2 linked regions of the Homo sapiens genome follow. The protein of the gene in region 1 purifies or fractionates together with the protein of each later gene. This does not show direct contact. Each region holds a gene or a part of one and is shown on either strand. Other genes may lie near its edges.

Region 1 (3,654 bases):
GTCGGTGAGGGGGTTGGGTCGGTGAGAGGGGCGAATGGGGTCCATGGGGGGTGGGGTCGGTGGGGCTGGTGGGGTTGTCGCCCTGCCCCTCCCGGCCACCTCGGCCACGTGCTGCTCCTTGCGCTTCAGAACGCACTCGTACTGCTCCTCGCCCTGCCGCAGCAGCTCCAGCTCCAGCCTGTCTTTCAGCTCCCGCACGCGCCCGTCCACGCCCTCAGGGCCCTCGCCCGGCGCGGCTCCGGCGCTCTCCTCGCGGGGCAGGCTCCTGGGGAGGCCACGTGGGGACAGGCCCTGAGATCCTGCGCCACCCGCGCTGCAGAGGGCAGGGCACCGCCACGAGCCTTACCTCTTCTTGCGAGAGCCCTTGCCGGGACCGAGCTTGCAGGCCCCGACGCCCCCCACGCCCGGTGGCCCGAGCTCCGCCAGCTGCGCCGCGCCCCGCTGCAGCAGCTCCTCCCAGCGCCGCGCTCCGCGCCGCTCCAACTCTCGCAGCTCCTTCTCGTGCCGCCGCTGCAGCTTCACCACGCCCTTTAGCTCCCGGAGCTCCTCCAGGCTGGCGGTCCGCGGCTCTGCGGAGGCCCGGGTGAGGCGCAACACCGGCCAGGCCGTCCTGCCCGTCCAACCCCCAAGGAGCCCCGGACCCGCCCCAGGCTCATCCCCGAGATCACCGGGCTCAGCAGGCCTTACCCGCAGCTTCTTTCATAGCCTCTTCCCTGGCCCCGGCCCTGGCTGCTGCAAGAGCCACGGGCTGGGCTGTCAGGTGCTCTGGGGGGCCCCTTGGCTCCGTTCGCCTCCTCCACACCGCCCCCTGGGAGTCGCAGTATGTGCCCCCTGCCCCGCACTTTCCCTAGGTGAAATTTTTTAAAGGGAAGTGCCTGTGGGTGCAGAGGTGGAGGTGCCCCCAGTAGGTGTGCGGACCGAAGCTCATACCTGGTGACCCATTGCTCGTTGGGGCCAACGCCCCATTGACCTGGCTGGCAACTGGACTCGCCAGTGGGAAGGGCTTCTGTGTAGGGAGAGCAGGTCAGGAAGGTGGCTTGACAGCCCTCTCTCCCCGAGCCTGGGACTCGGCCCTCTCCCCAGCCTCTCCCATAAATAGGGCTAATCTCTGGTGAGCCCCTGGCAGCAGTGCAGGCAACACAGACCTCAGGCAGACCTCCCATGGCCTCCTTGAGCTTCACAGACTTCGTGTCATGGGCACTGAAGAACTTAATGGGGTTGGCGAGGGCCACAGTGAGATCTGGGTGGGTGCACAGGACATTACAACATAGTGTATATGGAGATGTGGCTGGAAGTCTCCCCTGTCCTCACCCACTCCAGGATGCCCCATCTGGATCCCACCCCAACTCTGGAAGCTGGCTTGATGGGAAGGAAGGGGGAACAGACACCCCGAGGCTCCTGGCATGCCATGGGCTCCTACCTGCCCAAGCACCAGGTATGTAGTCCTTCATCTCCAGGAAGATGAAGAGCGCAGGCATGGTGAGGGGCATGTTGCTCTCACTGTGCAGGCACAGGTGGTGGTACCCTGTGAGACAGGACAGGGTAGGCAGTGAGCCAGAGCCCGTTCCTGCCAGCACTGTGCACACACAGCCTAGGACCCAAGGGTCTGAGTCTGGCACTGCACCATCCTGGCTGTGTGACTTCAGCCAGGTTACTTTAACTCTCTGAGACTTTACTCATCTATGAAGAGGGGATGAGTGTCTACTCATGTGGTTATTGTGAGGATGAAGTGAGAATGTATTATAAGCCCTTAGCAAATTTTAAATGCCCATAAGTGTCAGCTACTTGAGAAACTGCCCCAGCCGTTTCAGAAAATTACAGCAATTCTGTTAGGTGGGCAGAGTTCCCGCCTCTCTTAGGTTCCTGGAGAGGTACTGTTCTGCCCTACTCCTTACAATGTGAGGGCTTAGGTAAGGCCTCACTCCAGGCCCCCTCCCAGAAGCTGCCCCACCCTGTGCACAGGCTCCTGCTGCTGATCTTGGAACAGTGAAGGACCCCACTCCTTACCAGAATTTAGGGCATTGATGGGGATGATGCGGTGTCCAAGAAACTTGTTGCCTTCCTCCATCACAGCCACTCTGAGGGAGGCCAGCTCAGGCATCAAGATCTGGGGAGAGTTGGGGACATGACAGGCTGGGAGGGGAGAGAGGAGCCAAGCTGACCCCCTCCCTGGCTCCAGAAGTCTCAGCATCAGTGTGAGAACATGGTGAGTGTCACCAGATTTGGTGAGGACAGACAGAGGGCACACTCTAGGCCATATACAAAGACATCCCCACAGCACATGCCATGGCTGGTTCCACACAGGGGAGGAGGGCTGGATTTGCAGCCCAAGGCTGAGGGGGCCTGGCACAGATAGCCCTTGACAGCTTTGCCAGTGGGTATCCAGTGGGGCAAAAGACTCCCATGGGAACCTCAACCCTGAGTGCACATTTCTGCCTCTAATCTTCACACACACACACTCTGCCTACCAAGTAAACTTCTGTAAACTTGGGTTTTGCACTCTTGAAACAGGAGGGCCCAGGGTGAGGGATGGGAAGAGGAGGAGGAGGAAGGTCAAGGAGCTGCCTTGTTTACTTCCTCTTGTCTGTAAGTAGAGGCCAAGAACTAGACAGACTCTGCCCTGCCATGCCCTGGCCCCCACCTTCTCAAAGACAAAGGGCTCCTCCTTCCAGACAGGATTGATGGAGTTAGTACTGGGTGACAGCTTAGTTCGATAGCGCCTCTTGGGGTCCCCAGGAAGGCCAAACAGCTCCACTTCTACATAGGTGCGCACGCTGCGTTCTGACAGGAACTGCCCAGAGATCACCTGGGGGTAGGGGCCCAGGAAAACCAGCATCAAATCCCCACCCAGGCTCTTCCCCAAGCATCTGGGGCCCCTGGCTGCCTAGAGCTGAAGCATTCGTTCTTGGGTGTTATGAAGAACCTCACTCAGCTCTGGCCATGAGTAGAGAGGCTGTGTAGCCCACGGGTTACAGCTAAGCTCTGAGGACCAGGGTGCTTCTAGCATGAAGGGAAGAGGTGGGCCTCCCACCTCCCTCCCTAGCCAAAGAGGGAACAATGCCTTCCCCCAGGACCTGGGGCTCCGGCTGCCCCACTCTGCCCACTCTTCCTCCCCTCCCCCACCCCAGCCTCAGCCCTTCCCGTTGGTTTCCATGGGGACCAAGTGGCAGCCTCCAGTGCTGAGGAGGAGGCAGTTTCCAAGGCAACTTGCTACTGCAGGAACTGGCTGGGGCTGAAGTTTCCAGGATATCAGGGGAGGGGGTTGCGAGTTGAGTGAGGGGTGGGCTCCTGTGCCCTTCTACTCAAGACCTCAGCCTCCCGGCCACTTGTGTGCCCCAGGGCCTTGCCGTAATGGAAAGGGTGGTGGCCACCACCACGTCGATGCGGTCCACTGAGAAGGGGTTGAACTGCTTGTCCGGCCGGCGCATGAACTCATGCTTGAGGAGGTAGCCGCTCTGCCCGTTGAACTCAAATACTGCCATGTTCTGCTGCATGGGCAAGTCTGGAGGGACAAGGACACTCAGTGAGGAAGGCCCAGCCCTGGGGCTGTGCCCAGTCTCCATTTCCTCCATTCCCAGCCTTTGCTGTCTGGTGAATGGGGAGGTTGGGTGGACCGTGAGGATGAGGGCTTCTCCTGTCCCAGTCTGGTTCCTT
Region 2 (3,654 bases), on another chromosome or scaffold:
ATCTGGATAAAGATTAGACTTTTAAATGAATTATTAAAAGTTAAAAAAGTGTACTGCATTAATTTTCAAATCACAATCTTCTATTTATTTATAGACAATGTTTATGTGTGTGATAAGGGCTTACTTTTCTTGAAGCTTAAGTTAAAAATCTTTTCTCTTTTAATAATGCTTTATTTCTAAACAAACTATAATAATCAGATTTTCAAAATAAATTTAAATAAACTACTTATGCCACCCATTATTTTTTCTAGCTATGAAAATGGATAAATAATAGATCTCTCTGCCTGTAGTACCTAAGGGTTGTGAGGCACAAACCAGATCACAGGTGAAAGATGACCCAAAAGGAAAAACTTTAAAGTTTACAGTTGTAGTAGACTGTTCATCCATCAGTTTAAATTAGTAGATGATACTGGGATACGTAAATGTTGATTTGTTCCTCAGGCTGCAGTAATACAATGGGAACTCAAATCTCAAGTTATAGATAGATCAATTTACAGAAGGGTGGTACAGATAGTAAAGGATGGGAAAGAATGATTCTGAGAGGTAAAGTCATGTTATAAATGCTCACAGATTTGACTAACCGGAATAACTTATTACTGAGCAGGGAAACTCGAGATATACAAGTTGAAAGTAAGGTTTGAAAAAGAAATAGGAAGAGCAACTTGACACTGACAGATGTTTTCAAAAGTGCCATTTCAGCACAATTAACCCAATCCCACCCTCATTTCTACAGATGCTGTCAAAACAAATTCTGCTGATGTATAATTTTGCCAGCCTCCTATCTGCAGAACACAATGTCCTGACCATGTTTTTTTTCTTCAATTTTGAAGGAAAGGAGTAAATTCTGATTTTTGGTGTGAGAACTAGTAAATGCAGCTGTTGGGTTCGTCACTAAGTATTAAGATTTTATTTTTATTTTACTTTTTCTATTTTCAAGCAAATCAAGGTATCTGCAATTGATGAAAGATGATAATATACACTTAATATGGTCCTCAAGTGACAAATTTATTTTAAAAGTTCTTTTTAATGAAATATGCTATTTAAACTAGTTTACTTCTTTCCATATCATATATCCCATTATAAGAACATAATAGTAAACTTAAGCACATTTTTATTAATTAAACCCTTTCAGAGTTAAGATATGTAAACTCTAGAAATAGCACTAAACTAAAATAAACCAGATACCAGATATTCCAGGGAAATGGTCTTCTACTATTAATTCATTCCATACATAGTAAATCAGAAATGAGTTCTCCCAGCCTATTTTAATATTAAGTTAAGAATGACATATATACCAATGGATCATTCATTCTCTAAAGTATACTTTGGCCTTGTTTAGAGTTAATGAAAAAAAAGATGAGTTCTAAAACTTATACTTTAATTTGATCGCATCAACTCCCTGAAAAATATTAAACTTTTAATTCAAAATTTTCCTTTAAAATCTTTGAAAAATAGCCTGCAAATTAAAATTGATAACCACCTCATATAATGATTTTAAGGCTATTAAAGGATAACACACCCAAACAAAAGTAGAAATGAGTCAAGTTTTATTAGTTAGAGTTTGTTTTACCATGTCATTTATTTGGCCTTGGTGTCCAGAAAACTCTCTGACAATCTTCCTAGTTTCTATGTCCAGAACACTAATGGAGAAGTCATCCAAGGCGAGTCCCAGAATGCCACTAGCAAGATAAATGCACCAGTTTTAATAAACAAAAAACCCTTGAACTAAAATCTCACCTCCACTTGAATTTTGTTAAATCAAGTACACTTTGGGGGAAATTAAGCCAAATGTTGTTCTTTATTAAAGAGTCTGATTTTTCCCACTTGGTAAATTGTGACTTTATGACTTTTACCAAAAGAATCAAAGAGAAAATCCATTATCATTAAAAGTTTACCTGTCCCTATGTAGCAACATGATATTTGGAGATGAACTGAGGCTCACAGAATGGATTAAAATTTTGTTTTTAAAGTTCCAGAATTTGAGTAATCCTTCACTACCAGTTGTAACTGTCAACTGGTTTAATCCATCCACTGCGACACCTCTAACAGATCCCTTGTGAGCTGTAAGGTAGATGTCAAAAGAAAAAAAAAATCAGAATTGGCAGTGTTTCTCTCTGAACAATACACACAGTGATTCCTTCATTCAAATATGTAAGGTGCCACTTAAATATCCTTTAAAATCTTGAAATTAATCTGGATTTTAGGGGTGTAAGAAGATTCTTAATTATTAATACTGTTCGAGTAAAAAAACAGAAATCAGATCGATACAACATAGGTTTGAAAAGTTTGTTAAGATTTTCTGCTTAAAGGAGAGAAGAAAAAAAATTAATCTGTATAATATCCACGTAACTCTTTAAGTACCCATGACTTTTCTCTTTCAACATGGTCCTTATGATACAATTGCAGTATCTGCCATATAGGGTTGATTATAACCCATCTTCAACTTTAGCAAAATGCCCAGCACTTAAAGATTATACATACCAGCTTTCACTACTAGTTTTGTATCTATCTACATTAATAAAAAACAAGGAAAAAAATTCTCTACCTTGATCCTTGCCAAAACTTCCTCGATGTATGCCAGACTGCATGTTATATACATCTACAGTTCCTGATGAGAGGCCAATTACAGCAAAGTTTCCACAAGAAGTTATATCCACTGCCTTTAAGAAAAAAAACCCACAAATGACAAAATAACTAACATTTTTATTGCACTTTATGCTTTCCAAAGCATTTTTTTATCTACTTGTTCCTTTTTATTTAACAAAAGAACAATAAATGAATTGCTTCATTAGTTTTTTTAACATAAAGTAATTATATTTGGGTGTATAAGAATATATGCTAGATTCTATCTCCATTCTTTAAAAAGTATGAAGAATTACTATCTAAGAAAACAAAACATAACTAAGGTTAACTCAATTTAAATGTACAAAGTCAAGAGAACTATATATGGGACTAGCCTTCAATTTTTAATTTATTAACAAAGCCAAAGTTAAAACATTCCATCGCCTAATTTCTTTTTGTCTTGCCTTTTGTAACTGCTTCCACAGCTGACATAAAACCAAAAACATACCATTAGTTAGAATGGCCAAGCAAAAGCCCAAAATATTTTAATTATGACATATTAGGAAGGAAATATATAAGACACTACAGAGAAAACATTTGGTTTATAAGCAGGTTCTATAATATAATCTCATTTTAATACTTAAAATATCAATATTATGTCAATATATTTTTTCTATACTGAAAACATGAGACTGGCTACATATTTGGTCACTGCTGGAGAAATAACTGATTGCCAATGTGTGTCAGTCAGATGTCATCCACCAAGAGATAATTCAATTTACATCTAAACAGATGACTTATACAAACTAAGTAGAAAGTATTTAATGAAGGTTTATTTAACTAAGCAAAGCAACATAAAGTTTGACATACCACTTTGTCACGACATATTTACATTGCATCACATAAATATGTTTTACATACATACATTTTTCTAGATAAAGATTTCTTTTAAAAAAAGTATTTTAGATGGGAAATTACTATGGTTAAAAAGCATTTTATCTTCCTAAATGAAACACAAACATTAAGCTGACCTATTTTGAAAAATTCATAAATGTTTATGCTATGTTGTATAGTTATACAATCAAGAAACTA

What was found. Proteins that work in one complex are often made in the same cells at the same time.
Region 2: the proteins of PLCB2 (region 1) and WDR36 purify together in Homo sapiens (affinity purification with western blotting, with the first as the bait; one study listed by BioGRID). This does not show direct contact.

Annotation. Positions count from the first base shown.
Region 1 is NC_000015.10:40,290,919-40,294,572, forward strand, and holds part of PLCB2 (1-phosphatidylinositol 4,5-bisphosphate phosphodiesterase beta-2), read right to left. Parts: intron 3,503-3,654; coding exon 3,348-3,502; intron 2,807-3,347; coding exon 2,642-2,806; intron 2,108-2,641; coding exon 2,008-2,107; intron 1,526-2,007; coding exon 1,421-1,525; intron 1,241-1,420; coding exon 1,146-1,240; intron 1,007-1,145; coding exon 931-1,006; intron 848-930; coding exon of another isoform or gene 733-847; coding exon 688-732; intron 570-687; coding exon 347-569; intron 266-346; coding exon 100-265; intron 1-99. UniProt on the Homo sapiens protein: The production of the second messenger molecules diacylglycerol (DAG) and inositol 1,4,5-trisphosphate (IP3) is mediated by activated phosphatidylinositol-specific phospholipase C enzymes.
Region 2 is NC_000005.10:111,109,195-111,112,848, reverse strand, and holds part of WDR36 (WD repeat-containing protein 36), read right to left. Parts: intron 2,661-3,654; coding exon 2,546-2,660; intron 2,062-2,545; coding exon 1,896-2,061; intron 1,680-1,895; coding exon 1,571-1,679; intron 1-1,570. UniProt on the Homo sapiens protein: Part of the small subunit (SSU) processome, first precursor of the small eukaryotic ribosomal subunit.